4 linked regions of the Homo sapiens genome follow. The protein of the gene in region 3 interacts with the protein of the main gene of each other region in a pairwise test. Each region holds a gene or a part of one and is shown on either strand. Other genes may lie near its edges. The genes, in order: TFIP11, CDK18, KIFC3 and CWF19L2.

Region 1 (4,734 bases), on a different chromosome or scaffold from region 3:
TGAAACCCCATCTCTACCAAAAATACAAACCAGCCAGGTGTGGTGGCGGGCGCCTGTCGTCCCAGCTACTAGGGAGGCTGAGGCGGGAGGATGGCTTGAACCTCGGAGGCAGAGGTTGCAGTGAGCCAAGATCTGCCATTGCACTTCAGCCTGGGCAACAGTGAGACCCTGTCTCAACAAAAAAAAAAAAAAAAAAAAAAAAAAAAAAAAAAAGCCAGGAGTTGTGACTTATGCCTGTAATCCCAGCCCTTTGGGAGGCTGAGGTGGGCAGATCACCTGAGACCAGGAGTTTGAGACCAGCCTGGGCAACATGCCAAAACGCTGTCTCTAATAAAAACACAAAAATTAGTTGGCCACGGTGGTGCACACCTGTACTCCCAGCTACTCGGGAGGCTGAGGCACAAGAGTCACTTGAACCCGGGAGGCGGAGGTTGCTGTAAGCTGAGATGAAAACGGACATTGTCTTTGCTCTTTGTGCTTCTTTGGCTTTGCCAGTACTAAAGCTGTGCCTTACAGACCGGGTTTCTCTTCCAGGGATGTGTCTTGGTGAGCTAGTCATTAACCCCCACCAGCAGCACATGGATGCATTCTATTGGGTGATTGACTGGGAAGGGATGATCTCTGTCTCTAGCCTGGTGGGACTTCTTGAAAAGCACTTCTTCCCCAAGTGGCTTCAGGTACACTTTGTTTTGCTTGGATTTCTGGGGGAGGGAACTGGGTGGGGATTAAGTTAATTTTCTGCCAAGGCCTGACTGTAGGTACAATTCCATAATGAAAATAAATTACATGGTAGGGTAGGAATGAGTTAGGTCATCTTCATAGTGGGCACCATTTATTGGACATTTGCCATGTATCAGAAGCTGTTCCAAGCACTTTATTTGCTTTATCTCAGCTCCTCTCAGCAACCCTATGGGGTAGGGGATATGGTATCCCTGTTGTGTAGACATGGAAGCTGAGGCTCAGAGAGTTTACATGCAAGGGCACTTTAGCTACCAGGCTGACTCCAAAATCCATATTCATAAGTGCTAGACTGTTTAGCTACTATAAATCCCTGTAAAGTAGTGTCACTAGCCTGTAGGACCAGGATCAAAACAAAACAAATGGCCACTTCAGAAATCTTGCCTTCATTTGTTGCCACGATGGATGCAAGTAATTTTTCTTTTTGGCAGGTGCTGTGCTCTTGGCTCAGTAACAGCCCAAATTATGAGGAGATCACCAAGTGGTACCTGGGTTGGAAGTCGATGTTCTCAGACCAAGTGCTGGCACATCCATCTGTCAAGGACAAATTTAATGAGGCACTTGATATCATGAACCGGGCGGTGTCCTCCAACGTTGGTAAGTGAGGATTCCCATTTTGGATGTCCTGGCCCCAAGTTTCAGATTTTACACATGTAAATGACACAGAATCAGAGTTTTCTGGTTCCTGTAGGCAGCCTAAACCTTAGGTCACACTTTTGCACATAGCAACAGACTCTCACCCTGCTGACTGGGGTACATGGTCAGCTGGCACCCACTGCCCAGGTCTACCATGACTGAGAGGGGCATCTTCCCTGAGTGGAGACTGACTTAAGCTGGATTCAGATGATGTCAGTCTAACCCCAGGCCCCGCCCTCTTAACCACTGTGCTGTGTGGCCTTTTAAGGCTCATTCATGCCTGAGCATGCTGCTTAGGTGACGCATCTTACAGTGTGGAGTTTGGCACGCGGTCTGACACTTGGTGATTGCTCAGCCTTAATCAGCCCCATTTTACCTGTTAAACAGTAAGATCTACTTTATAGGCTAAAAGGGAGAGTGAGTTCATGCTTGTGTATAGCCTTCAATAGGTGGTGTCTGTGTTGTCAAAAACAGGCAGTTCACTGTTCGTGTACTATATCTGTTCCCAAGTTCTAGGTAAGTCATTCTGCCTAGATCATAAGTAAGTGAGAGTATATTTATGTTTCTACATTTGGGAGCCTATTTCAACCAGTCCTGTGCTCCAGTGTTGCTCATTAGCCGATTCGCAGCATTGAAATGGGATCGTCTAGTCTGTGTTTTACAGATAAGCCCAGCGAGGCTGAGAGCCTGTTCAAGGTCACATAGTTAAAGGGTGGCAGTTAGAACTGGAATTTCTATTTCCTGAGTCTTTAATTCTTGTTATTTAATAGCCTAGGCCAGGCACGGTGGCTCACGCCTGTAATCCTAGCACTTTGGGAGGCCGAGGCGGGTAGATCACGAGGTCAGGAGTTCGAGACCAGCCTGACCAACATGGTGAAACCCCGTCTCTACTAAAAATGCAAAAATTAGCCGGGCGCGGTGGCACATGCCTGTAATGCCAGCTACTTAGGAGGCTGAGGCAGAAGAATCGCTTAAACCTGGGAGGCAGAGGTTGTAGTGAGCCGAGATTGCAAGCACTGCACTCCAGCCTAGGTGACAAGAGCGAGACTCGGTCTCAAAAAAAAAAAAAGAAAAATAGCCTATTCTGTGAAAACAGAGATTAAGTAATAAGGCAAATATACTTCTCTGCTTCTGTAATTATCAAGTTTTTTCTAAAAACTCTTCCTTAGCTACCCTTGGCCTCATGTTTCCAAAACTGTTCCCTGAATATACCCCTCAATTAGCACTTAGCATTTATGGTCTTGGTATTATCCTTTAAACACTCATTTCAGCTCCCTAAATATATGTGAACTTCTTTCAGGATGGGGGCCCTGTGTGGGTAGGTTAAAAATAAAGCCAGTATGGGCCCTATGTTTTCAAGGTACTAAAAGCTGCCTCTTTGGTGGTGGGAAATGGAAACTCTACAGAGCAAGGTGGGAACAGAAGAGTGGCTGAGGACTCTCTGTTAATGTTTCCAGCTCTGAAGGAAGAAATCCCTTGCAGATACTTCATTTTAAAATGTTGAATATTAATAATCTGGTTACTAGATACTAGCCAGGAACCTTCTGAACAGTTTTTATGTGATACTGGCCAGTCGTCTAAACTTCCTCCAAAGTTGTATCTTTGAGGCAGAGCTGCCCTTCAGTGAGTCACAAGCACTCTGGCACACCCAAGACCTGGGCCAAGCCACAGTGTCAACTTCCATACACCTGGAAACACCTCTCCTCACCGCCCTGTCCTCCTGTATCTTAGGTGCCTACATGCAGCCAGGAGCACGGGAGAACATTGCCTATCTCACCCACACGGAGCGGAGGAAGGACTTCCAGTACGAGGCCATGCAGGAGAGGCGGGAGGCTGAGAACATGGCTCAGAGGGGCATTGGCGTGGCCGCTAGCTCTGTGCCCATGAACTTTAAGGACCTCATTGAGACCAAGGCTGAGGAGCACAACATTGTCTTCATGCCCGTCATTGGGAAGCGACACGAAGGGAAGCAGCTCTACACCTTTGGCCGCATTGTGATCTACATCGACCGGGGAGTGGTCTTTGTCCAGGGCGAGAAGACGTGGGTGCCCACCTCACTGCAGAGCCTGATCGACATGGCCAAGTGAACTGTGGCAGGTCCAGAACCAGTCAGAGACTTGCCCCTAAGAGGGATGTACTGTAAATAAACAGTATTTTTAGATCACCTTCAAAAGGGTAACTTCTTTACTCAGGAGCTACTCCACATCAGGCCAGGTCATGAGGGAAGGATGTAAAATGGGACAATGCCACGTAGGGCAGGAATCTTTATACCAAGTCCTCATGTGGGGTATCGTCCTCAAAACAGGACAGCCAAGTTGATGTTCTTTCCTGGCAAAGGAGTTCTCTGTAGTTCCTCCATAGCAGCCTTCCCTTTAGTCTCTGGTGGCAGCTTCTACCTCAGCCAACACTGAGTACCTCACAACGAGTTCAGTCAGTAGCAGAAGGATCTTCTCTCTTGTTCCTGATGATTTCAAGGTCCTCACAGTCCTGATAATCTGGTTCTTCCCGAAACTCCCAAATATCTATGGAGAGCTGTTCTAGCTTTTGCACAGGGAACCAGTGGACAGAGGTATCATTAAATATGTCCATGTATTGTGAAGTCTGAGGAAACTCAAGCTCCTCCAGTCCTTTTAAAATCTGAGCAGAAAAATTCAAGTATAAAAACTTCAGATAGTCACAGTAATCCCCACTCTTCTGGGATAAATTTCCACTTTACTTGTCATCCCCACTTTACTTTTTAAAAAAATAACAAATAGGGTATTTTGATTTAAATGCTTTTGCACAATGAATTGGGCGCCCCAAGGACAGTGGATATCATGGACTGTGATACTAAGAATAAAGGAAATAAGGAAAAAACTAAGAGATGCATTAAAGAGTCATAGCTTTCTGGAACACAGACCCATGGAGAGAGCTGACAGTACACTAGCGCCACTTAGCCCATGAGTTTCCTCCTACGCCTGTAAAGAAAGATAGAATTCTTCACAGTTTCACACCCTTTTCCATCCCAGCCCCTTTATTCAGATAGATACCTTTGCAATGTAGGGATAATTTTTCTGCAGAATCCTTGCCAACAACCTAGAAATTAAAAAAAACCAAAAAAACAAAAAAAAAACACCATGATTAGGAGGTATGAGGATAGTTTCATTCAACTTTTAAGACACATAGAAGGGCAAGATGATTGAAGCATAGTAAGAATTCAGGAAAAAACTCAAGATGTGGAGTAAACCAGTTAAATAGTTGAAAATGTGGGCCAGGCGCAGGTAATCCCAGCACTTCAGGAGACTGAGGCGGGCGGATCATTTGAGGTCAGGAGTTCAAGACCAGCATGGCCAACATGGTAAAACCCCATCTCTACTAAAA
Region 2 (8,574 bases), on a different chromosome or scaffold from region 3:
GTCCTACACTGTAGGGCAGAGCCCGGCTTGACTCTTCCCGGTTCCTACCCTAACCAAGCCTCTACTTTCTGGGATCACCCTGTTGGGACTTTTGTCCAGCATCTCCATCTACCTGTCCTCTGATTCCTTCTGTTCTTCTCTAACTGAGCTTGAGAACTAAAGGGGAGGGCAAACTTCTGGCCTTGGTGGAATCCAGCTCCAGCATATAGTAGCTATGTGACCTTCCCCTCACTAGCACACTCGTGAATTTCTCCCAGCATCCGTTCCCTCATCTGTAAAATGAGGATCATAATAGAGGGCTGTTATAAGATTTAGGCTGGGTGCGGTGGCTCACGCCTGTAATCCCAGCACTTTGGGAGGCCGAGGTGGACGGATCACGAGGTCAGGAGATCGAGACCATCCTGGCTAACATGGTGAAACCCCATCTCTACTGAAAAAAAAAAAAAAGCACAAAATTAGTCAGGCGTGGTGGCAGGTGCCTGTAGCTACTCGGGAGGCTGAGGCAGGAGAATGGCGTGAACCCGGGAGGCGGAGGTTGTAGTGAGCCGAGATTGCACCGCTGTACTCCAGCCTGGGCGACAGAGCGAGACTCCGTCTCAAAAAAAAAAAAAAAAAAAAAAAAAAAAAATAATGCACAGTGCCTGGCATGTAGCAGAGACTAAATAACTGGTAGCTATAGTGGTTGGTGGTGCTTGTTTGGAAAGGGAATTTCCTGGTGATTGCACCAGGGCTGGTCTAGAGACCAAGGTAGATTTTCCCAGCCCCATCAGGCCAAGCCCTTAGTTAGACAGAATCTTTACTGCTCTTCCAGGTTAGGGAGGAGGGCTCTGTGTAAGAGAATGGTGGTGGTGGTAGGGGAATGGGTTGGATGGAAATCTTCCAGGAGGGGCCAGGAATCTGTGCTGTGGGGGCCCTACCTTCTGGCAGTTATGAATGAGGCAGGCACTGGGAGCTGGAGAGGCAGCAGTCTCTTGCTCTGAGGGCCCTCTGGCAGCGCCTTCTTTCCCTGAGGTAGGAGGACCCTCCCCTGGTACTTAATTAATTGCAGTCCCTGTTCTGCTCTGTTGTTCAGGGTGAGTGGCTGGCCTGGTTCCAGGCCCACCTGATTAGCCCACCTTTGGCAATAAGTCACATTTCTCTTCCTCGGCTCTGTGTCCCACCATAACCCCTTACGTCCCCTTCCCTGGACTTTTCACCTTTGCCCTCCAGGCATTCCCTGCTGAGTGGGCACTTTCCCACATCCAGGGGGTGGGAGCAGACCAAGGTTAATCTTGTCCTGGCTCCCACAGCTGCTTACACACACACAGCTGCATGCACATGCACACACAGGCTGGGCTCACAACAGCTCAGGCCAAGGGTCTGGGATCCAGGATCACTACAGAGCTGGTAGCTGGGCCTGGCTGGAGCTGGCCAGTGGTTCAGCAGCAAGTCTGGAAGAGGAAAAGCCGTGGGCGCATCTCCGCCAGACCTCCTGTCTGAAAGAGAGCCCATCTGCTCCTAGAATCTCCACAGCTACATCTGCAGAGGAGGAGGGGTAGTGAGGCAAGTGTGAGGTTTGGTTTTAAACTGAAAAGGGAGGTGGGCGGATTGCTTGAGCCCAGGAGGTCGAAACCAGACTGGGCAACATGGCAAGACCCCATCTCTAAAAAAATACAAAAATTAGCCAGGTGTGGTGGCACGCGCCTGTAGTCCCAGCTACTCGGGAGGCTGAGAGGGGAGGATCGCTTGAGCCTAGGAGGTTGAGGCTGCAGTGATCCATGATTGCATCACTGCACTCCAGCCTGGGCAACAGAACAAGAACTTGTCAAAAAAAAAATTGAAAAGGGTCTTAGGCCGGGTGTGGTGGCTCATGCCTGTAATCCCAGCACTTTGGAAGGCCAAGGCGGGTGGATCACTTGAGGCCAGGAGTTTGAGACCAGCCTGGCCAACATGATGAAACCCTGTTTCTCCTAAAAATACAAAAATTAGCTAGGCATGGTGGCGTGTGCCTGTAATCCCAGCTACTCGGGAGGCTGAGGTAGGAGGATCGCTTGAACCCAGGAGGTGGAGGTTGCAGTGAGCCGAGGTCGCACCACTGCACTCCAGCCTGGGCGAGAAACAAAACAAAACAAAACAAAAAACGGGTCTTGAAGCAAAGCTCCCTGACAGCATGAGTAACCCTGAAGAGACTGGACACCTTGCTCTGGGAGACATGGGCCAGAACTTTTGAAAGGACTATGATGAGATCCTCTTTCCTGGAGCTCTTGATAATGGTCCCACCCTCTGAGCCTCCCTACCCCCACCATTAAATAAAAGTCTTCCCTAGAAATGGTGGAGTCGGGATAGACAAGATGACCCAATAATGGCTGGCTGGTGCACTCATCATTATTTATATGTTGAGTGTATGTCTCCTGTCCACCATGGGTGGAGGCAATTTATGGACTTTGGGGTCAGTTCAGATTCTGCCTCTTCCACTCAGTAACTGGTTGCCTTAGGTTAAGTAATTTGCTCACCCAGGTTTCAGTTTCCTCATTTATAAAATAGGAGGATAATACTATTATCTCATGTGATTGCGAGGACTCCAGTGAGATAATGTCCACCTAGTAGCTCTTTGCTTTACCTGATGTCATTATCAAGGGGTGGTGGCAGAGTTAATGGGCTACATTTGGTAGTTCTCAGTGCCTTTGGCCCCACTTGATATTTTTTTCTGAAATCAGGGTCCCTGCAAACATCAGGGATCAGCCCCCAAATTGGGAAGAGAACTCTATTCTTAAAATGTTTCTGGCCAGGCACAGAGGCTCACACCTGTAATCCCAGAACTTTGGGAGGCCGAGGTAGGTGGATCACCTGAGGTCAGGAGTTCAAGACCAGCCTGGCCAACATGGCGAAACCCCATCTCTACTAAAAATACAAAAATTAGCCAGGCATGGTGGCAGGCACCTGTAATCCCAGCTACTCCAGAGGCTGAGGCACGAGAATCGCTTGAACAAGGGAGGCAGAGGTTGCAGTGAGCCAGGATTGTACCACTGCACTCCAGACTGGGTGACAGAGCAAGACTTTGTCTCAAAAAAAAAAAAAAAATTTCTACCCTCCCTCACTCTGAACACTGTTCCCCATCTTATCATTATCGAGGGAAATTCAGAGCTCCAGAATGATTACTGCCCTCACACCTTGCTTCCCTAAAGAAGCCTGCCCTTTTCTGCCTGGGGAGTCTCCTCAGGAACCAGACCTTCTTCTCTTCTCTGGCCCCAGCCACCCAGCACCCTGGGCTGCGGGGTGACCAGCCCAGGAGGTGACAGGGCTGTCCTTCCCACATCCTGGCAGGACCCACTGCCTGGAAGCAGGTGGGCGGTAGGTGTTATGCTAGAGGGCATCACTCTTGACAAAGCAGCACTGGCTCCCAAACTCTGCCTGCAACATGGGATGAGCCCAGGAAAGGGGTCACAGAGCCCCTCCCTGATCCTGCCGTGGAGCCCAGCTGGCAGCATCCCCTGCCGTGGCTGGGCTGGGTGCCATGTTCTGTGTGGGTGCCAAACCTGGCATGGCTCCTTCCCAAGGAAGGTGGCCCTTGGGGATGCTGTGACTTTCTTGGCTGTGGTGACCAATAAAGGGAGTGCCATCTCTACGCAGGCCCATGCAGTCCCTTCCAACCCTGCACAAAGTCAGAAGCCCAAAGTGTGGTCCCAGCTCTGCCCTGTCACCCTCAGTGGCCTCGGGCAGATCGCTCACCTTTCTGAGTCTTGCCTTCTTTGCCTGAAACATGAGGGTGCAGACCAGGGGATTTCCAAAGGCCCCTCTGAGGCTGCTGGTCTGAGGCTCCGACTTTTGCCTGTCCTGCTAACAAGGTGAGCTGTGTGCTGGGGTCCCAAGAGGGGCTCAGCCTCCTGTTCCTCCAAACTGTAGAGCCAGGGGCTTGCCCCAGCTGATGGCTGGGTACCTGGTCCCTGCCATGCTGAGATGGGCAAGGAAATCCTGGAATGCCTCAGCCCTGTCAATTAGGAGGAGAACAACTACCTCGCAAAGAAATGGATGCTGGATTCAAACACTACACAGGCACTGGATGCTCAAGGCTAGGGGTTGGCAAACCATGGCTCTTGGCCAAGTCCCGACAGTTTTTGTATGGCCCATGAGCTAAGAATGATTTTTACATTTTTAAGCAGTCGGTAAAAAGTCAAAAGAAGAAAATAAAGTTTTGTGACCCTTAAACATTTTATAAAATTCAAATGTTAGTGTTCATAGTAAAGTTTTACTGGTGTGAGGCCAAACTCATTCATTTACATCTTGCCTGTGGGTGCTTTTGTGCTGCAAAGGCAGAGTGGCAGAGTGGCGACAGAGACGATGGCCCGCAAAGCCTAAAATAGTGGCTGTCTGGCCTCTTACAGAAAAGGTTTGCTGACCCCTGCTCAAGATAATCATAGTTCTCTCCAGGCCTTGCACTAAACTGCTCCAGGATCTCAATCTAAAAGTACTTTCTTTTCATTTAAAAAGAAGTGTTGCTATTTTCTTCTTATGTAAGCAATAAATGTTCATTATGGAAATATTAGAAGATGCAGATAAGCAAAAAGAAGACATTAAAATCACCCATAATTCTATCACCCAGGAATAACTACTGCTGGTGTTTTGACTTACCACCTTCTGGGTTATCTAACAGTGTGCTGTGTTTATATGTGCATGCCTGTGACACATGTGTATATCCTGCATACGTACAGCTTTTACAAACTGTACACATCTGTCCTCTTCACTTAAAAACACATCTTGGCCAGGTGCGGTGGCTCACACCTATAATCCTAGCACTTTGGGAGGCCGAGGCGGGCGGATTACCTGAGTTCAGGAGTTTGAGACTAGCCTGGGTAACATGGTGAAACCCCATCTCTACTAAAATACAAAAAATTAGCTGGGTGTGGTGTCGTGCGCTTGTAGTCCCAGCTACTTGGGAGGCTGAGGCAGGAGAATTGCTTGAACCCGGGAGACAGAAGTTGCACTGAGCCAAGATCACGCCACTGCACTCCAGCCTGGGTGACTCCGTCTCCAAAAGAAAACACACACACACATACCTCTAACTGAACCCTTGGGGGACACACAGGCAGGGTGCCCAGAAGGCAGCTGCACCCAAGCATCTGGAGCTGAGGGGCTTGGTGGGGCCAGGGCTACAGATCTGGAGTCATCAGCACGCGGGTGGTGGTTTCCACTTCGGGAGGGGATGAGGTCACCCAGGAAGCATGCCCAGAGAGGAAGAGCAAAGGGCCAAAGAGAGAATTGTGGGAGTGTTGACATTCAAGGGACAGGTAGAGGAAGTAAGTCCACCAGACCCGGGAGGAAGGAAGAAGCAGGAGGAGACCCAGGCAGCCAAAGGGAGTGGAATCCGAGGCCCAGGGCCCAGGACAGTGCCTGGCGCTGAGCAGGTGCTTGTGAAATGAGTGAGTGACTTTGAGGAGGCTGAACCCTGGTGAGTGAGTGACACTGATAAAAGACATTTAGAGAACAGTTGAACAACTATGAGATGTTCAGAGGCCTGGGGGAGGCCATGCAGGCCAAGGAGGCCTCCTGGGCCCAGCCTGGTGGGAGGGAGGCCATGCGGAGTGTGAGGAGGGAGAGGCGGGGCAATCCAAGTGACCAGAAGCTGGGAGCTGGTCAGAGGAGCCCAGTGGAGTTCTTGGCGGTGACATGAAGCTGCTTTTTTTAAGCTAGTCTCTCAGATTGGAATGAGGAAAGTTGGAGACGACCAGCCAGGGGTTCTTGTCAGAATGTGGGCACTGGGCGGCGTGGGCCAGCTGGTGGGGGTGGAGTATAAATAGGAATATGGTTTAGAGATGCTGGGAAATCCTCCCCATTCCCTCCCCCTCCTGAGACTGAGAGGTCCCCAGGGATGCCAGGCTCAAAGGCCCCTGCAGTTCTGTTGCCAAAGTTGGGCATGGAGAGAAACCCAGAGACAGGACTGAAGGTCCCATGACAGGCCAGCAGGAGAGCTGGACACGGGATATCTGGCTGAGAGAGGGCTATTGGGTGGGTGAACTCAACACTCTTCTTTTCTTCTCCAATTTATTGTGTAAAAGATGGTAGGCACCAGTTTCTGTGCCAGAGCAAGTGGAGAGGAAACAAGCTGTTTCCTCTGGTATTTAAGGAAGACCTAAGGAAAGGTTCCAGACTTTGGGATCTCAAAAACACAGGACAGTTGGGGAAGGACCTTCCTTGAGTGTCTTTAAAGAGGGCTGATAAAAGGAGCAGAGAGGGCTCCTCTGGCTGGGAGAGTAAGGCGGGCTTTCTCTGGAGGCAGGAGGATGGGGGAGATGGAGGCCAGGCCTATCCTGGCCCTTGCCCCTTGCTCTGGTCTCTGATCTGGGATGTTCTGTACGCCCAGGACCAGAACTGACAGAAGGGCTCCTTGTCCCATCTTATCACTTGGACATCCTGAGCCTCCTCAGAGAGTGCAGACCAGCTTTAGCTGGGCCCCCAAAAAAGGTCAAAAGGAAAATACCAGAAGATGCAATATGCACCTCTATTCCTTAAGCCTCAGGAAGCCAGAGAGCAGCAGGGTGGACATCAGTAGGACTGAAGTGGAGCCACACAGAGGGGCTAGATAGGAGGTCGTGTGGGGTCAGAAAGGGTCATCTGTAGGGGTCAAGGCCAACATCTGAGCCTGAGTAGTGCACCTGCCCTACAAGGCTCTGAGAATCTTCCCTGAGTGATAGAGCCAGGAAGAGGGCCACAAGCCCCTCCGAACCCCTTCCCCACAGCCCTGGAGGCCCTAGCTCAATGCATGTTGCAGGAGGAACTTCTCATTCGGGTTCTTCTCATTCCAGTCCACCCCTCACTGTAGGATGGTGCCTCCAGCCCAAAAACCTCCACAGACCTCACTGGGGGAGTAATTGCTGGGCAGGACACTGCCCCCACTGCCTCAGCCCATCTCCCGCTGCTGTTGGGCCACATGCTGGCTAGAGGAAGAGGGTCAGGTTTCAGCTGAGGCCTCGAGTCCAGCTTTCATATTTCATTTGCTGGTCATTTGAGGGCTCACTTTGTCTCAGGCTTTGGGTCAGGCTCTGGGGGTGCAATGACGAGTCACGCCACAGTGCTTGCCCTTAAAAAGCCCACAGGCAAACTAGGGAAATGACAAGTAAACAGTTACAGGACAGGGAGCCAAGTGCCCTGCCTTGGGATGTCAGAAAGCTGTGGGAGCACAGAAGAGGGACCATCACCTGGCTGGGGACAGTGGAGTTTCGGGCTAGAGGAGATGCAGAGGTCCCCATGGCAGGATGAGTAGCACGTTGTTGGTTTCTCCCTAGTCCCCCATCCATCTGCTTGGGTACCAATCCCTGTATTCCTGTTCCCTCTGAAACCCAAGAAAACTGAGGAGGAAGCATGCCCCGGGGAGTCTGGGGCTGGGTGACTGGACAGTCTAGGCTTACTCTAGTGTGCCCAGAAAGAGGACAGGGCCAGGCCCACCCCAATCATGCTCAAGTCTAACTAGGACAGGAGATGGCCTAATGAGAAGATACACCTAGAAACAGGTCCCTGGCCTGCCTGAAAGTGGAAGGAAAGGCACCAACATTTATTGCACGTGGCAGTGTGTCCTGGATCTTAAAGGTGACTAAGATACAGTCTTTGTCCTTGAGGGATCTAATGTTTCCATATCTGTAGAGGAAAGAGGTTTAAACAAGTCATCATGAAGCAGTGGCTCGATGGCCTCATTCAGTCACTTGTTCATTCGTTCCACAAATGCTGAGTACCTGGTGGGCTCCTTACTCTGTGTAAGGCATCAGGGAAACAAAAATGTTAAGGCCCCATTCTTGTCCTGAAGGATCTCACAGTCTAGTTATGAGTGTGTGCTGGCTGCTCTGGAAGGGACAAGGAGGAAGCATCTCATTCTACCTAGAGGAAGAAGGTGTGGTCATGCACAGTCTCCCAGGGGAAGTGACCCATGAGTTGAGTTTGGGAGTGGTTTTACCGAGGGAAAAATTGAGGAAGGGCATCCCAGGCCAAATGATTGCAAAGCTGTGGGGTGTGAGTGGAGTTTGCTCTGGGAATGCCAGGTACATTTGATAAAACCAGACCTTCTGGGGAGGGGTGAGAGCTGAGGCTCAAGAAGACAGGGATCCAAAAGCCTGGTCTGCCAGGCCCTGGAATTTGAACTTTTTCCTGAAGGCAGTGTTAGCTTTGAAGGATTTTTTTTTTTTTTTTTTTTTGAGATGGAGTCTCGCTGCAACACCCAGGCTGGAGTGCAGTGGCGCCATTTCGGCTCACCGCAAACTCTGCCTCCTGGGTTCAAGCGATACTCCTGCCTCAGCCTCCCAAGTAGCTGAGATTACAGGCGTGTGCCACCATGCCCAGCTGATTTTTGTATTTTTAGTAGAGACAGGGTTTCACCATATTGGCCAGTCTGGTCTTGAACTCCCGACCTCAGGTGGTCCACCCACCTTGACCTCCCACAGTGCTGGGATTACAGACATGAGCCACCGCGCCTAGCCACTTTGAAAGATTTTAAATGGGCAAGCGACATCATCAGAAAGCAGCTGAGAAAGTTAAGTCTAGGACGCTGATGGCAGTTGGATTGGAGGCCAAGTATTATTCTCAATTAGCAGCAAGGAAACTGAGGCATGG
Region 3 (6,947 bases):
GAGCTGGGGGAAGGGCAGCAGGCACTGGCCTGTCTTCCCTGCAGTCTTTGGGCGGCCCGGTTGCCCACTACTGTCTAATGTATGACTCATGAGTCACGAATCATTGTGAGCTGAGTGACTGCAGTAACACGTGATGTGGTGTTGCTGAAGGACAGCATGGTTGGGGAGGTGGCTGGACTTGTAGCTGGTGGTCCCAGCGGCCCTGGAAGCCCCCCCACCAGCCTCCCTCCCACCACCCTCCCAGGTGTTCCAGGAGGTGCAGGCCCTGGTCACCTCTTGCATTGATGGCTTCAATGTCTGCATCTTTGCGTACGGCCAGACGGGCGCCGGCAAGACGTACACGATGGAGGTGGGTGCTGCCCAATGGGGTGGGGGTTCACAGTGAAGCATGAAGGGAATGCGGGCTCCCTCATTGGTCTTGGGGTATTGTGCAGTGTGTGTTTTGCCTCATTTGGTCCTCACAACCCAGGAGCAGAGGCTGTAGTTATCTGTGTTAGCCCTGAGGCACCAGGCCTTAAGAGGGGGCCCCCTTGCCCAAGGGCACCCACAATGGGCCCAGCAGGACTGGGAGAGAGGCAAGGGGGGACTATCATCACAGGGATCTCGGCTTGGGGACAGAGTCTGGGGCAGGCCACCGACCTCTCTCAGGACCAGGGCTGCATTTCACCTTGAGTGTGCACTGCACACTCCTGCTTTACCGCTGCCTTGGGCCGGGCCTGGGGGATCTGGGATGAGTGGCGGGTCTCAGTCCTCAAGGAGATCCCAGGGCAAGACTGGCATATGAAGGCTGTTGTGGGGAGCCCAGCTCTTGCCGGTGGTCCCTGGGGCCAGGCCAAGGCTTCCTCTCCCTGCTCGTCACCGGCACCCTCCCAGGTGTGGTGGAGCAGGTGGCAGGCCAGGGAGAGGGGCGTTGAGACTAGGAAGGATCTTGACTGTGGGCAGAGGGCAGTGGAAAGCTAGCCCTGGCTCTGAGGGGTGCTGTGGGATTGATTCCCTAGGTCAGGAGGAGGCCAGGTGGTGTGGCGTCTGGACAGGGGAAGGGGCTAGCCAGGCCTGCTGGGCGGCCCTCTTATTTCCCATCTGGACTCTGCTGTTCCCTCGATTCTGGGACTGGTGAGACTAGTTAGTGGGGGCAGGCCAGGCCAGGCAGGAGGAGGAAGGGGATGTGTGCGGCATCCTCTGGGCTCCCCGCTCTGCTTTGGGATTGCTTAGTGTTGAGGTGACCACCAGGAACATCAGAGCGTTCATCCTCAAGTGTATCTGCTGATGCATAAGGTGTATCAGGCATCGTGCCAGGCACAGCTGTGACCCAAACAGTCCCTGCCCCCACAGAGGGCCCTCCCCACAGGGCCAACCTGGCTGTGGGGAGACAGCAGGGTCTACACAAATCAGCAAGTGTCCTGTCAGGCCAGGGAGAAAAATAAAGCCAGGAATGCGGAACTGACTAGGGGGAGGGACAGGGCATTTGGGGGTGCTGGGCGAAGGAGCAGCCTCCCTGAGGGGGCATCTTGGGAGCAGCCTCCCTGAGGGAGATGACGGAGCCGGCCAAGGGGCGGTCAGAGGAGTACCCGGGGCAGAGGGAGCTGCAGGGCTGAGGCCAAGAGGCCAGAGCATGCCAGGGGCACCTGAGGCCCAGCCAGGAGGCCCCTGTGGCCGGAATAGAGAGTGAGTGAGAGGTGCTATCAGAAGAGGGGTGAGGGCCAGGCTCCCAGGGCCTCGAGGTCCCGGGTGGGGACTCCAGGTTTCCTTCTAGAAAGGCCGGCCCACCCGTCCTTCCCCAGGACACTGGCCCGCTCCTCCTTGTGCCTCCTCTCTACCACCCACAGAGCCCAGGTCTCAGCCTCCCTGAGACTGAGCGCCTTTCTGGGCAGTGGCGGGGTCATTCATTTCCAGTGCCCCTCCCAGGTGGCCCCACAGGGCCAGGCATGCATCTGGCCCTCAGCTGCCCTGTGTGGGGTCTGGGCCAGGCCCCTCATCCCAGTGCTGCACTATAAGTCTCAGGGTAGTCCTGGCAGGGCGATGCCATTTTAATGGTGGGGAAATAGAGGTGCAGTTGCCCGCAGCTGGTGGAGGGCATTTTGGGGGACAGTGGCAGGTAGGTAAGAGCTTTGGGCAAGGAGGCTTGCTTGTGAGGGGTAGTCAAGGGGCTTTGGGGACAGACACCACACGAGCGTCTTTGGGGACAGGCCTGGCTTACTGGGGCCTTTCCTTCTGTCCCCAGGGGACCGCTGAGAACCCAGGTATCAACCAGCGGGCCCTGCAGCTGCTCTTCTCCGAGGTGCAGGAGAAGGCGTCTGACTGGGAGTACACCATCACCGTCAGCGCTGCGGAGATCTACAATGAGGTCCTCAGGTGGGAGCCCCAGGGTGTGCGGAGCAGGCCTCAGGGGCAGCTTTGGGGTCCTCCGGGGTGGTGCTGGAACGAGGTCCTCAGGTGGGACCCCCAGTATGTGGGGAGCAGGCCTCAGGGGCAGCTTTGGGATCCTCAGGGGTGGTGCTGGAGCAATGGGGGATAGGAAGTGGGGTCTTCCTGAAGGGAGTGTAGGGACCAGATGAGGCCGTCAAGGTGAAGGGAGTGTAGGGACCAGATGAGGCCGTCAAGGGACCTGGCTGCAAGTCCTGACTCAGCCCAGTGGGTTGGATGGTTCTGGGGGGAGGAGGGGCTCTCTCTGAGACCCAGGCAATCCTTGCCCCTACCTGTGGGCTACACCAGGTGGCCATGGGTGAGAGTGGGCAGCTAGGGGCCCTGCCAACAGGGGCTCATTGTATTGTGGAGTGAGATCTCCACGTCTTCAGCTGAATGCGGTGGAGGAGCTGGAGGAGGAGAGATGCACTCAGCTGATGGCTGGAGAAGGCTTCCTGGGTTGGGGGAACATTCCTGGCTGGGGGGCTGGGTGCAGTGCAAACAGCAGCTGGAAATGGGAGGAGGGGGTGACTGTCTCACCTGCCCCTCCAGGGACCTGCTAGGGAAAGAGCCTCAGGAAAAACTGGAGATCCGGCTGTGCCCAGACGGCAGTGGGCAGCTGTATGTACCAGGGCTGACTGAGTTCCAAGTGCAGAGCGTGGACGACATCAACAAGGTGTGGAGGCGGGAGCCCCTGACCACAGCCACACTGCTCTAGAGGACACAACTGGGTTTGAATGTAGGCTCTGCTGTGTCCTAAGCACGCACCCTTGGGCAAGTCCGCACGCCTCTCTGAGCCTCAGTTTCCTCATCTAAACTGCGGAGGGTGGTGCCACTCCTCATGGGTGCTTGGGGCCAGGTGACTCTGAGGACCCCATTCTCAACGCTGTGCCTCTGCCCTCCTCCCAATCCCCCAGGTGTTTGAGTTTGGCCACACTAATCGCACGACCGAGTTCACCAACCTGAACGAGCACAGCTCCCGCTCGCACGCGCTGCTCATCGTGACGGTGCGAGGCGTGGACTGCAGCACAGGCCTCCGCACCACGGGTGAGAGTGGCAGGCAGCCTGGCCTGAGGATCCCCACAACCCCAAGGGGCAGGGCAGGCCTGATCTGGTGGGTGCCTTCCCTGCAGGGAAGCTGAACCTGGTGGACTTGGCTGGCTCGGAGCGCGTGGGCAAGTCGGGGGCCGAGGGCAGCCGCCTGCGGGAGGCGCAGCACATCAACAAGTCGCTGTCGGCTCTGGGGGACGTCATTGCTGCCCTGCGCTCCCGCCAGGGCCACGTGCCCTTCCGCAACTCCAAGCTCACCTACCTGCTGCAGGATTCGCTTAGTGGTGACAGCAAGACCCTCATGGTGGTACAGGTGAGGACCTTGGGTTAGGGCGGGCCAGTCCCTAGCATGTAGGGGCTACGCTAGCAGTGAGACCCAGTCACCCCAGGCTGTGCAAATGGACCTCCCCGCCCCTAGACCTGGCCACACACACCCTGTGTAACTCCCAGTCCCTCCTCTCCACCTTTGACCACAGCACCTCTGCCATGTTGCCTGCCCTCCCACCCCATCCCTCAGGCCTCTCCAGGAAGCCTTCTGACGGCCCCAGCTGTGAGCTCCCTCTCGTGACCCTGTTGCCCCTCCAGCTGGCCCGGGTGGGCAGTGAGCTCTCGTGTCCCCTAGGTGTCCCCCGTGGAGAAGAACACTAGCGAGACGCTCTATTCCCTCAAGTTTGCTGAGAGGGTGCGCTCTGTGGAGCTGGGGCCTGGGCTACGCAGGGCAGAGCTTGGGTCCTGGTCAAGCCAGGAGCATCTAGAGGTACGGGGACTGTCACAGGCCTGGCTCAGGTGGCCCTGGGTCAGAGACTTTGGGTCATGGCAGGAGCAGGGAGCTGGGCGGGGACGTCCTGAAGCAGTGGGGGCAGGGAAGCTGCCGGAGTTGGGTGGAGCTACGGCTGGAACCCACAGCCAGCAGCCTCTTCAGTACAGGTATTTCTTCTTGGCCTCGGAGGTTCCTGTGGGGTGACGAGCTGGCCGTGGGGGTGGCACATAGTAGATGCTCAGTGGTAACTAGTTGACTTCTTTACATGAATTATCTCATTTAATTCTTGCCATAACTGAGGCTGGGGCACAAACATCATGCCCATTTTGCAGATGAGGAAACTGGGTGTTAGGAGGCAGGGCAGGGGAGTAGAGAGAAGCACAGCAGGGTGGGGAGCCAGGGCAGCCGTGGCCCCCGCCCATCCGCCCTTCCCTGCTCACAGTGGGAGCCGGCTTGTCAGACGCCACAGCCCTCGGCACGGGCCCACTCAGCCCCCAGCTCTGGGACCAGTAGCCGCCCTGGATCCATCCGGAGGAAGCTGCAGCCCTCGGGTGAGCCTGGAGTGGCAGTGTGGGTGGGGAGTCTCCCCAGGGTAATAGTCACCAGGCTGCCCTTACCTGGATGGGCTTTCTCTTTTCTTTCCTTTTTAAAAAGTTCTTACACCTTCTCCAGAACCTGTTTTACAACCTCCCCTGCCCCCAGGCAGTAGTCAGGGCAGACAGTGCTGTGTCCGTTCTGCAGGTGGGAAATGGAAGGTCTGTGGGAAGGGGGCAGTGTAAGGAGACCCCAGCCTCTCAGCCGGGGGTGCTGACTCTACCCTGGGACCCTGCTCTCTGAGCATGGGCTGGCTGAGCCTGTGCAGTAAGCCCCCTCCAGAGCAGCCCCTGCAGCCCCCTCCCTGTGCCTCAGCTGCCCCGGGGGTAGAAAGGGCCGGGCTTGCCTACCTCCTAGGTGAGGAGTGAGCCCCGCCACAGGACCGGGACCCAGGGCTCCAGCCCCTGTTTAGCCCAGATCATGGGAGGGCCTGGCCCATCCTTGAGTCCAAAGGGGTAGCAGCAGCAGGGTCTTGTGGGGTACTGGCCCAAGGCAAGCCCACCAGTGAGACGCCTGTCACTTTGATTTCAGCCTGACGGCTGGGGCTGCAGAGTCTCTAGGTGAGTGTGGGGCCTGTGGCCCAGGGCTGCCCGCCTGCCTGCCCGCAGTGGGTTGCAGGGCTGCGCTGGGACGTTCTGCTGTTCAGAGCTGGGTCTAGCCCCTGCTGTCGCTTGTCTATGTGCTTTTGCTGGGTTCCCTCCTGCTCTCGGTGGCAACTGCTGTGGGCTGCCGGTGGGCAAGTGGACAAGAGGCTGATGATCTCATGCCCCTGCAGGGAAGTCGCGGCCACTGCCTGTGTGACGGATGTGACCCCGCTGGGCCTGAAGCTGGGCCCTCACTGGCCTGTCCCTGCTGCAGCGCCAGGACCCCCGGAGGTAGAGGCGAGAGTGGAGGCTCTTCTTCTGCCCCGTCTCCCCTCAAAGATGAGAAACATGTTCAGAAGGAAACGGTGTCTCTCGGCTGTGGCTCTGAGTGCAAATTGCATGGGCGGAAAGGCGGGGGTGGCTGCTCTTCCTGGCAGGCCTGGGCCATCAGCGAACTGGGCCCCGTGAGGAGGGCGGGAGTGTGGAGGAGGGTGGGCCTCTCACCCAGGCTTTCTCGGCCCCTCTCCTCAGCTTGCAGAGCTGGCCAGCCCCCTCCTTAGGGGGTGGGCGAGGAGCCTCTGGGCAGACCCAAGAACCATGGGGACTGGGGTGGGTTGGTGGCACCAATGGCAGCCCTCCCCGCCCCTCTCCTTCAAGGAGGGTTCCCGCAGCTGGGGGGTGTGCGGAGGCGCATGGCCTCCCGCCACGGGGCCGTGCTGTGTTTATGGCTGGCAGAGGCAGCCAGCGGGTGGGGGATTCTGCTGCTCGCTCACCTGCCTGGCTCGCTGGTCTCTCGAATTTTCTTCCCTCTGAAATCCTATTTAAGAACTTTTGGAAGCTTAGCCATTTTTACTTATTAAAATAAAAGAAGCCTTTTTACACAAGTATGGTCTGAAAAAGTTGGTCTGTGAGCCCCTCTTGGTCTGATTAGGGGGACGGGGCACTGGCAGGTCTTGTGGACTCCCCCGCTGGCTGGTCACCCCACAGCCCTCTGGGATCTGTCCTCTAGGTCAGTTAGGGACATGCGTCCTTAACAAACAACTGGGGGGAGCCTGCGCTGTCCCACCCTGGGTCACTTTCTCTGTTGTTTGTGGTCACAGTCGCCTCATGCGGTACCTACCATGTGCCCACGATAACTGACCTCCCAACAGGGGCATTCCTCCATGTTACTGATGGGAAGGAAACTAAGGCTGGAGAGAGCTTCAAAGGCTATCAAAGCCTTGCCCAAACCATGCTGGGCTTCCAGGTTACTGCTGGGCACCACCCACTGCCCACTCTTTGCCCTGGCCTTTTCCCTCTTCAGTGAACTGGCCAGAGGTCCACGCCACCTTCCTCCAGTGCCGAGGACCCTGACCACCCCGGGGCGGGGCTGTACCTGGTCCCTGCCTTGGGAGCAGGAGGGGGCCCACCTGTCGCAGTGCCCACGGAGCAGGGAGCCCTTTCCCGCCAGCCAGTGCTGGGGACTCCAGCAGGGAGTGACAGCTGATCGGAGCCCTGCTCAGAGGAAGGGGCAGGTGCCCTTCTAGTCCTGCCCCTGGAGGCATCCTGGGGGTGTC
Region 4 (8,614 bases), on a different chromosome or scaffold from region 3:
AGCCTGCCAGTACTACCTGTGGGTCTATGGTGGTGGCTACAGGGTGAGGCCCCTCTGCCTGTGAAAAGGGAAGAGTGGGAAGGACTGCCATTCATAGGTTGAATGCCAGCTCAGCCACAGTTCAATAGAACACCAGGTACAAGTCTAAGGTTTTTGACGCCAGTACCTGGGTCCCTGATGGCACCTCTGGACCCACCCTCAGGCCTGGGGGAACTTGCCACCCTGAAGGGAAAGACGCAGGCCTGGCTGGCTTCATCACCTGCTGATTGCAGAGCCCCAGGGCCTTGAGTGAACACCAGCTGTAGCCAGGTAATTGTTACAGCAGGCCTTGGGCAAGATCCAGTGCTGTGCTTAGCAATAATTCCCAAATCATATCCCTATCCTCTTAGCCTTTCTCTGAAATTCAAGATCAACATTTCCAATATTTTCTGGACATCTCTAAGTAGATGTATCCCAGATATTTTCATATCATAACTAGTAATATATTTTTTACGTTTTCTTGTATTTTAACTTCCCATAAGTTACACATTCAAATAAAATGTTCTCAAATAGCTGCTTTGATTAATTTTAGTACATACTTACTGATGAGCTATCAGATGACTCATTGTTTTTTTCATATTTCTGTTTCTTGCTCTTTTTTTTCTTTTCTTTCTTTGCTTTTTTTGAATGCTTGTCTTTTTTCTTCTTTTTCTTCACAGAGTGTTCCTACAATCATTTTGAACAGGCAAGAAAATAATTTAATTTCATCTTAATTTAAAAGGATGTATTCTGAGAGAAAAAAAATAAACCACATTCTAAAAAACTTTCAATCTCTGATGAAATAAGACCAAGAATATGTCTAAATAAATAAAATCTTTCAGGAAATCTTAACACACCTTCTATAATATATGCACTATCAATAAATCATATAACTGAGACTTCTTACCAGAAAAATACTGGGAAAATTTTGGCTTTATTTGTAGATTAATGTGACAAATATAATCAAATAAACACATATATACACAAACATGTATACATGCATCTATACACACACAAACACACATACATATAATATCCCTCTATGGTCTCCCCAAAAATTTATACAAGACTATTAGGCCATAAAAAATATAACAAGATAGCACAAATTAAAATTATAGGAAGAGGCTAGGGGAAGGAGCAAGGATAGGGAAAGGGAAGATGTTGATCAAAGGGTACAAAGTTTTCATGACACTAGAAATAAGTTTTAGTGATCTATTACTGATGACCACATTTAATAATAAGGTATTATCTATTTCAAAGCCATTGAAGAACAGACTTTTAACGTTCTCACCACAAAAAAATAAGTTGATGAGGTGATGGATATGTTCATTAGCTTGACTGAATCTTTCTATAATGTATACATAGATCAAACCATCACACTCTAACCCATAAATTTACACAATTATTATTTGTCAATTAAAAATAATTTTTAAAAAAATTATAGGAAAACAGGCTTGAGACCTAAAAAAATAAAATAAAATAAATACATAAAGCTTAAAATGCATAAATTTTTAGGCCTATAAGCTTGCTATAGTGGGCCAGAAATTTGAAGCTGTCTTCTACTAGCCAAACTCAAATAACAAAACTTGAGTCATAATGTCCAAAATATTACAATATCTTACCTCTGCCAAAGAGATGAAACTATTCAGCAATGCCAACTATGTGATATTCATTTTGTAACTTATGAAAACATTCTATAAAATTATTCATCCAATATTAACTTGAATACGTGCAAAAAAGGACAGATATCCTTACATCACGTAAACCTGTTAGTATTCACCTGTGAGAACTGTTCAATTCTCTCATTCACATCAGGTAGCATCCATGTATCCTCACCCCGAAGTCGCTTAAGTTCTTTACGCCTTTCTTCTTTTTCAAAATTGGCTTTAGCCTACAACCAAAGAAAAAAAAAAGACAAACTGGCAATTGACCCAACTGGGTTTCACAAAAAAAGGAAAACAAAAACCTCTGTCATTTTTATACAAAAATATCCACTCATGAATGAATGTCTATTCCTTGCCAGGGATTTGCTTCTCCAGTGTAAAAAAATAAAAAAATAAATAAATAAACAAAACAAAGCAAAAATCTCTCCTTCTGCATTTCCAATCTCCAGTGATTTGAGTTACCAATCAGAGAGAATCCAGGGACTGAGTCCAGGCCCTCCCATCTCTCTAAGCTCCCTAGCTCAATATGACTTGGAATCCCTTTTCCCTTCACCATTCCCATGGCTACTGCCTTAAGACTTTTGCAACAGTTAGACCTCCACGCCTTCAATATGCAATGCCTGTAGCCCCAATACCCAGCCCCAAAAATGCCTCAGGAAGAATCATCTCTGTATAAAGAAAGGATCATATTGGTAATTTTTATCCATTCTTCAATGATAGTCAAACAAAGCAAGTTTTTCCTAGGAAATCGTTCCTGCCCTCTTTCTTTCCCTGTAACTCCAAAGCTCAGTTTGGTCCTTTTCAAATTCTATGCATATCTCTACTATAAGATTTATCTCAACTTACGAAACTTACTCCCTCCAAAAACTGCTGGAAATACCAAAGAGAAAAGAATGAATAATATATATATACCCACACACACACATTACATATGTTGAAATTACGAAACAATACCAACATTTCACCTACCCAAGACTAATCGCCCACTCTTCCCCTTTAAAACCTGGCTGTAGTCATTTTCTTTTTTTTTTTAATCAAATATAAAAATAATTTATTAAAGGTTTATATCAGAGAACTGCTGAAGCAACAAGAACTAGAAGAGTTAATATTCCAGAAAAGGGAAAATCATGGAGAGGTAGTCCAACATTCTGCAGCTAGCTTTTCCCTGGGTGCATATAATAATTCTTGGTGTAGGCAAGAAGATGAATACAATGGTTATATACCAAACAGAAAAATCGATATCAGAGAAAAGAGCAGGGCTTATGATGGACTCCAAAGAACAGGGTGAGAAAATTGGAGATTAAAGGAGAATGGGGCTGCTTCACCCTCAAATTATTTGCCAAATTTTGAAACTATGTCATTTTCCCTTTAGAGTCTCCTCTCCCTCTTCTCTGCTGGCTCCTTCTCATTTGCATTTAAACTTGTTTAAAACTCTTCCAACTTAAATAAAAACAAAAACCCTCACTGAATTCTCTGTTGCTCTCCAACTGCAACTTTTCTCTTTCATTGCCACACTTCTTACATATTGAATAGATTGTCAGATAATTCAGAAGCTTACTTTCTCCATTCTTTGTATGTTACCTCTATGTATCTGAAGTTTAGTGAGAAATACAATGTTTCGCGATCTTTTGTGACAGGCTAAATATACTGAGATTGGTGTTAACTTTTGTTTGGATTGGTAAGAGCTTACAGTAAGTCTGGAATTGATACCAATAGAGACAGGAGGAGGAAATGTCAAACTGAGTCTATTCAAGTGTGACTTGAATGTGTTTCCGAAAAAGGAAAATCTCATTTCAGATACAGCAGTAGCAATGACTGAGGCTGCGAGACATGCTGGCAGAGTCCTTACAAGCCGCAGGGGACCTACAAAGTGTGCAGTCCGAGTGATAGAAATGTAAAGAATGGGTAACTTAAAAGGTAAAGAAACTTGGAGAAAAAGCGACAGATCTGCCTGAAAAGAGAATTAGCAACTGGCACCTGCCAGAACATCTAAAAAATCGGTAGCTACAAAAGGGTTTACCGGCATTGCAAAGGGAGAACTCACCCAAATTAAGGTGAGATTCAGTACTGACGAGGTAAGGGAAGGGGTGAGTGGGCTAGCTTACGGGAACCCTCAACTCCCACAACAATAAATAACTACAAAAGCCCCAAAACAGAGGTACCTGGCGCAACACCTCGGCCCTGGCATTCCGGGTCTGTTCTTTCCGCTCTTCGATACTCTTCGCACTTTCAAATCTACCACTAGCAGCCGCCATACTTGTTGCCATCGTAAAGCTAAGAAGCCGCAAGAAAATTCTAGTTTACGACGGTCGTAATTTAACAAACAAACCGGGACTTCCGGACCCGAGGAAGGAGGAGCACGGCTCCACCAACAGGGCATGCGCACATCTGAGGTCGCTTAGGGCTCGGATTACCGCAGCCCAGATTTTAAAGACCCGAAGGGTGTTGGAGGGTTTAATTCTTTCAGGTGTTGGGTGCGATTGTGAGCAGGATTAATACCCGTATATATTTATTATGCACTTTTTACTATATTAACAGCTTTCTCACCAATTTCGTCTTAAAATCACCGGAGTAAGTTACAAGCTCTTGGAAGTTAAGTTGGTACCTCTCAAAAGTTTTCTGCGGAAGTACCCTTTGTCGCCAGAGCATCATTTCCCTGTGCTGGAGGAATGGGATAAAGGGAGGCTGCCAGAAAGGTAGTGGCAGCTGGCAGGAAGGACAGAATTGCCTTGAAGATTCAGTGTTTTGTTTTGGTGGATTTTACTTAATATATGAAACACTCATGTGAATTTTGCATTGCACTTCACAATTTACCCGTGCTTAACTTGTTAGAAGTTTACATTATATTTTTTCCTCTGACCCCATATTATTTACTCATACTTATCCATCCAAGCATTTTTCATTACAATGGACAGTTACTTATTTATTTCTGCGGAGATTTCTTTGTTTTGTTTTACGCATGTATCGCCCAAACATAAAACTTTTAAGTTCAGAAGAATAAGACATTCTAAGGTGATGAAGTGCTTTGAGAACATAAGACACTAAGCTTACATTTACAAGAAGAAGAAGGCTGGGGAATTAATTATAAACGATACCTTAAAGACGCTAAAAATAAGTAACATAAGCCAGGTTGAGGTAAATACTCTTTCTCTTCAGGTTTCATAAAATTTAATGTGTGTTTGCAAGAAGCTTTCCAAGAGTTTTTACATTCACTACCATTCTATGAGTCTGAATCTTGAACACACAATGCCTACTTGTTTGATATGCAATAGAAAGTATTCATTTTATTTTAAAATGTAATTTACTAATCGACCTTGTAATATTTAATCAACTGACTACATTGACTGATATTTGTCATAACTAGCATCAACGTCTTTTCAGATTCTCTTGGAATTCAGAAAAACATCCATTTCACTGTTTTGCATCAATTCAATAAAAATAAACTGTGATTATATTAGAAACGTGTGTGTTTTAATCAGTTCAGGCTGCTATAACAAAATATTATAGAATGGATGGCTTATAAATAACAAACAAGTATGTCTTACAGTTCTGGAGGCTGGATAAAATCAAGGTGTTGGGCTATTTGCTGTCTAGTGAAGGTGTGTCCTGGTTCCTAGAGGGCAGTATTTTTGCTGTGTCTCATATGGCGGAAAGGGAGAGGGATCTCTCTAGAACTTCTTTTATAGGAATTCATGAGGGTGCTGCTCTCATGACCTAATCACCTCCCAGAGTCCCTACCTCCATATACCAGCACATTGGGGATTAGATTTCAACATAAGAATTTTGGGGAAACAAACATTCGGTCTAGAGCAATGTGCAAAGTTATATGAAGAAAACTTTAAAATCTTGCATAAGCTCCCCAAAAAGACTAGAACGAATGGAGAGGTATACTATGTGCTTAAAGAAGAAAACATCATAAAAAATCATTTCTCAATTAATTTGTAAATACCATGCAATACAAATAAAACTGCCCAAAAAAAAGTTGGGGTTAGAGAGGGGAACTAGATATGTTAAAATAGAAAAAAGAAAAGAAAAGAAAAGAAAGAAAAAGCAGGTTATTTTGGCTAGGTTTGCATTTGGCCACACCTAATGCGAATCCAGTCACATGGCTTAATCAAATAAAGGATAACGTAACAAGGAGCCTAAAAGTAACTGGTCCAGGCTTGGTGCAATTGCTGAAGGAGCCAAATAGTTTATCCTTTTTCGCTTTGTTGCAGTCTGTGACTTTAGTATTTGTAGTCACAAGCAGGGTATCATATTCTTTCACATCTGTTCACGGCATCTGATAAACAAGAATAAAGAGAAAGGACAAAGGGTAAACGTTGTTAGCTAAGCTGGCCTCATTTTTTATTAGAAAAATGATGGCTTTTCCTAAAGCCTAGTTCAGTTTCTTTCATTTAAATCCTATGATCCAGAAATAGGTCAGATGATCACAATTAACTACAAAAGTTTCATGAAGATTGCAGGATAGTTGTGTTATAGAATGTCACTCAACTTGGGTTTGTCGGAGGTTCTTTTGTGATTAAATTCAAATTTGGCCTCTTAAGCAGGACGATCACAGAAGTGAGGCGGTCTTACTGCATCCTGTTGGGTAGCGCATGATTTCCATTTGTTCCATTACAGGTGATGTTAATTCTGATCATTTAAATAAACTGGCATCTGCAGAGCTTCTCTGCTGTAAAGTACCTCTTTTCCTTCTATAATAAGTATTTTGTGAAGTGGTTCTTTGAAACTATGTAGATCATGTACCAAATTTTCAAGTTATTTATTTTTATATAATACAGATTCATAATTTCTCAGTGGATTCCTGTTTTTGTTCAGTGGGATAAAAATTCGTTATCAGTATTTATTTTGATCCTCAAATTGGTCCAGGTTAGGCCAGTGAGAGCCCTTTCAAGCTGGTTCCTGTGTCCTTTAGACATGTACCCACATTCTTTATATATATATATATATATATATATATATATATATATATATATATATATATATATATACTTTAAGTTCTGGGGTACATGTACAGAATGTGCAGGTTTGTTACATAGGTATACACGTGGTATGGAGGTATGCTGCACCCATCAACCCGTCATCTACATTAGGTATTTCTCCTAATGCTATCCCTCCCCCAGCCCCTCACCCCCCAACAGGCCCTGGTGTGTGATGTTCCCTCTCTGTGTCCATGTGTTCTCATTGTTCAACTCCCACTTATGAGTACATGCGGTGTTTGGTTTTCTGTTCTTGTGTTAGTTTGCTGAGAATGATGGTTTCCAGCTTCATCCATGTCCCTGCAAAGGACATAAACTCATCCTTTTTATGGCTGCATAGTATTCCATGGTGTATATGTAACACATTTTCTTAAACCAGTCTATCATTGATGGGCATTCGGGTTGGTTCCAAGTCTTTGCTATTGTGAACAGTGCAGAGATAAACGTACGTGTGCATGTCTTTATAGTAGAATGATTTATAATCCTTTGGGTATATACCCAGTAATGGGATTGCTGGGACAAATGTTATTTCTGGTTCTAGATCCTTGAGGAATCACCACACTGTCTTCCACAATGGTTGAACTAGTTTACACTCCCACCAACAGTGTAAAAGCATTCCTATTTCTCTACATCCTCTCCAGCATCTGTTGTCTCCTGGCTTTTTAATGATCGCCATTCTAATTGGCATGAGATGGTATCTCATTGTGGTTTGATTGGCATTTCTCTAATGACCAGTGAAGATGAGCTTTTTTTCATATGTTTATTGGCTGCATAAATGTCTTCTTTTGAAAAGTGTCTGTTCATACCCTTAGCCCACTTTCTGATGGGGTTGTTTTTTTCTTGTAAATTTGTTGAAGTTCTTTGTAGATTCTGGATATTAGCCCTTTGTCAGATGAACAGATTGCAAAAATTTTCTCCCATTCTGTAGGTTGCCTGTTCACTGATGATAGTTTCTTTTGCTGTGCATAAGCTCTTTAGTTTAATTAGATCCCATTTGCCAATTTCGGCTTTTGTTGCCATTGCTTTTGGTGTTTTAGTCATGAAGTGTTTGCCCAAGCCTATGTCCTGAATGGTATTGCCTAGGTTTTCTTCTAGGGTTTTTATGGTTTTAGGTCTTACATTTAAGTCTTTAATCCATCTTGAGTTAATTTTTGTATAAGGTGTAAGGAAGGGGTCCAGTTTCAGTGTTCTGCATATGCCTAGCCAGTTTTCCCAACACCATTTATTAAATAGGGAATCCTTTCTCCATTTCTTGATTTTGTCAGGTTTGTCAAAGATCAGATGGTTGTGGATGTGTGGTGTTATTTCTGAGGCCTCTGTTCTGTTCCATTGGTCTATATATCTGTTTTGGTACTAGCACCATGTTGTTTTGGTTACTGTAGCCTTGTAGTATAGTTTGAAGTCAGGTAATGTGATGCCTCCAGCTTTGTTCTTTTTGCTTAGGATTGTCTTGGCTATGCAGGCTCTTTTTTTGTTCCATATGAAATTTAAAGTAGTTTTTTCTAATTCTGTGAAGAAAGTCAATGGTAACTTGATGGGGATAGCATTGCACCTATAAATTACTTTGGACAGTATGGTCATTTTTACAGTATTGATTCTTCCTATCCATGAGCATGGAATGTTTTTCCATTTGTTTGTGTCCTCTCTTATTTCCTTGAGCAGTGGTTTGTAGTTCTCCTTGAAGAGTTCCTTCACATCTCTTATAAGTTGTATTCCTAGGTATTTTATTCTCTTTGTAGCAATTGTGAATGGGAGTTCACTCATGATTTGGCTCTCTGTTTGTCTGTTATTGGTGTATAGGAATGCTTGTGATTTTTGCACATTGATTTTGTATCCTGAGACTTTGCTGAAGTTGCTTATCAGCTTAAGGAGATTTTGGGCTGAGACGGTGGGGTTTTCTAAATATACAATCATGTCATCTGCTAACAGAGACAATTTGACTTCCTCTCT

Evidence for each region.
Region 1: the proteins of KIFC3 (region 3) and TFIP11 interact in binary tests that used the Homo sapiens proteins (3 or more experiments, as listed by UniProt).
Region 2: the proteins of KIFC3 (region 3) and CDK18 interact in binary tests that used the Homo sapiens proteins (3 or more experiments, as listed by UniProt).
Region 4: the proteins of KIFC3 (region 3) and CWF19L2 interact in binary tests that used the Homo sapiens proteins (3 or more experiments, as listed by UniProt).

Annotation. Positions count from the first base shown.
Region 1 is NC_000022.11:26,490,740-26,495,473, reverse strand, and holds the end of TFIP11 (tuftelin-interacting protein 11), read left to right. Parts: intron 1-534; coding exon 535-677; intron 678-815; exon of another isoform or gene 816-1,169; coding exon 1,170-1,335; exon of another isoform or gene 1,336-3,105; coding exon 3,106-3,461; 3' UTR 3,462-3,801; coding exon of another isoform or gene 3,802-4,011; 3' UTR 4,012-4,234; downstream 4,235-4,734. Other genes in the region: SRRD (SRR1-like protein), read right to left, coding at 3,802-4,011, 4,404-4,449. UniProt on the Homo sapiens protein: Involved in pre-mRNA splicing, specifically in spliceosome disassembly during late-stage splicing events. Intron turnover seems to proceed through reactions in two lariat-intron associated complexes termed Intron Large (IL) and Intron Small (IS).
Region 2 is NC_000001.11:205,507,036-205,515,609, forward strand, and holds part of CDK18 (cyclin-dependent kinase 18), read left to right. Parts: intron 1-5,281; exon of another isoform or gene 5,282-5,425; intron 5,426-8,574. UniProt on the Homo sapiens protein: May play a role in signal transduction cascades in terminally differentiated cells.
Region 3 is NC_000016.10:57,757,545-57,764,491, reverse strand, and holds the end of KIFC3 (kinesin-like protein KIFC3), read left to right. Parts: intron 1-244; coding exon 245-349; intron 350-2,221; coding exon 2,222-2,352; intron 2,353-2,955; coding exon 2,956-3,079; exon of another isoform or gene 3,080-3,177; intron 3,178-3,320; coding exon 3,321-3,450; intron 3,451-3,536; coding exon 3,537-3,766; intron 3,767-4,075; coding exon 4,076-4,210; intron 4,211-4,655; coding exon 4,656-4,764; intron 4,765-5,338; coding exon 5,339-5,343; 3' UTR 5,344-5,367; intron 5,368-5,582; coding exon of another isoform or gene 5,583-5,608; 3' UTR 5,609-6,275; downstream 6,276-6,947. UniProt on the Homo sapiens protein: Minus-end microtubule-dependent motor protein. Involved in apically targeted transport. Required for zonula adherens maintenance.
Region 4 is NC_000011.10:107,453,868-107,462,481, forward strand, and holds the start of CWF19L2 (CWF19-like protein 2), read right to left. Parts: upstream 3,959-8,614; 5' UTR 3,950-3,958; coding exon 3,845-3,949; intron 1,910-3,844; coding exon 1,799-1,909; intron 706-1,798; coding exon 583-705; intron 1-582.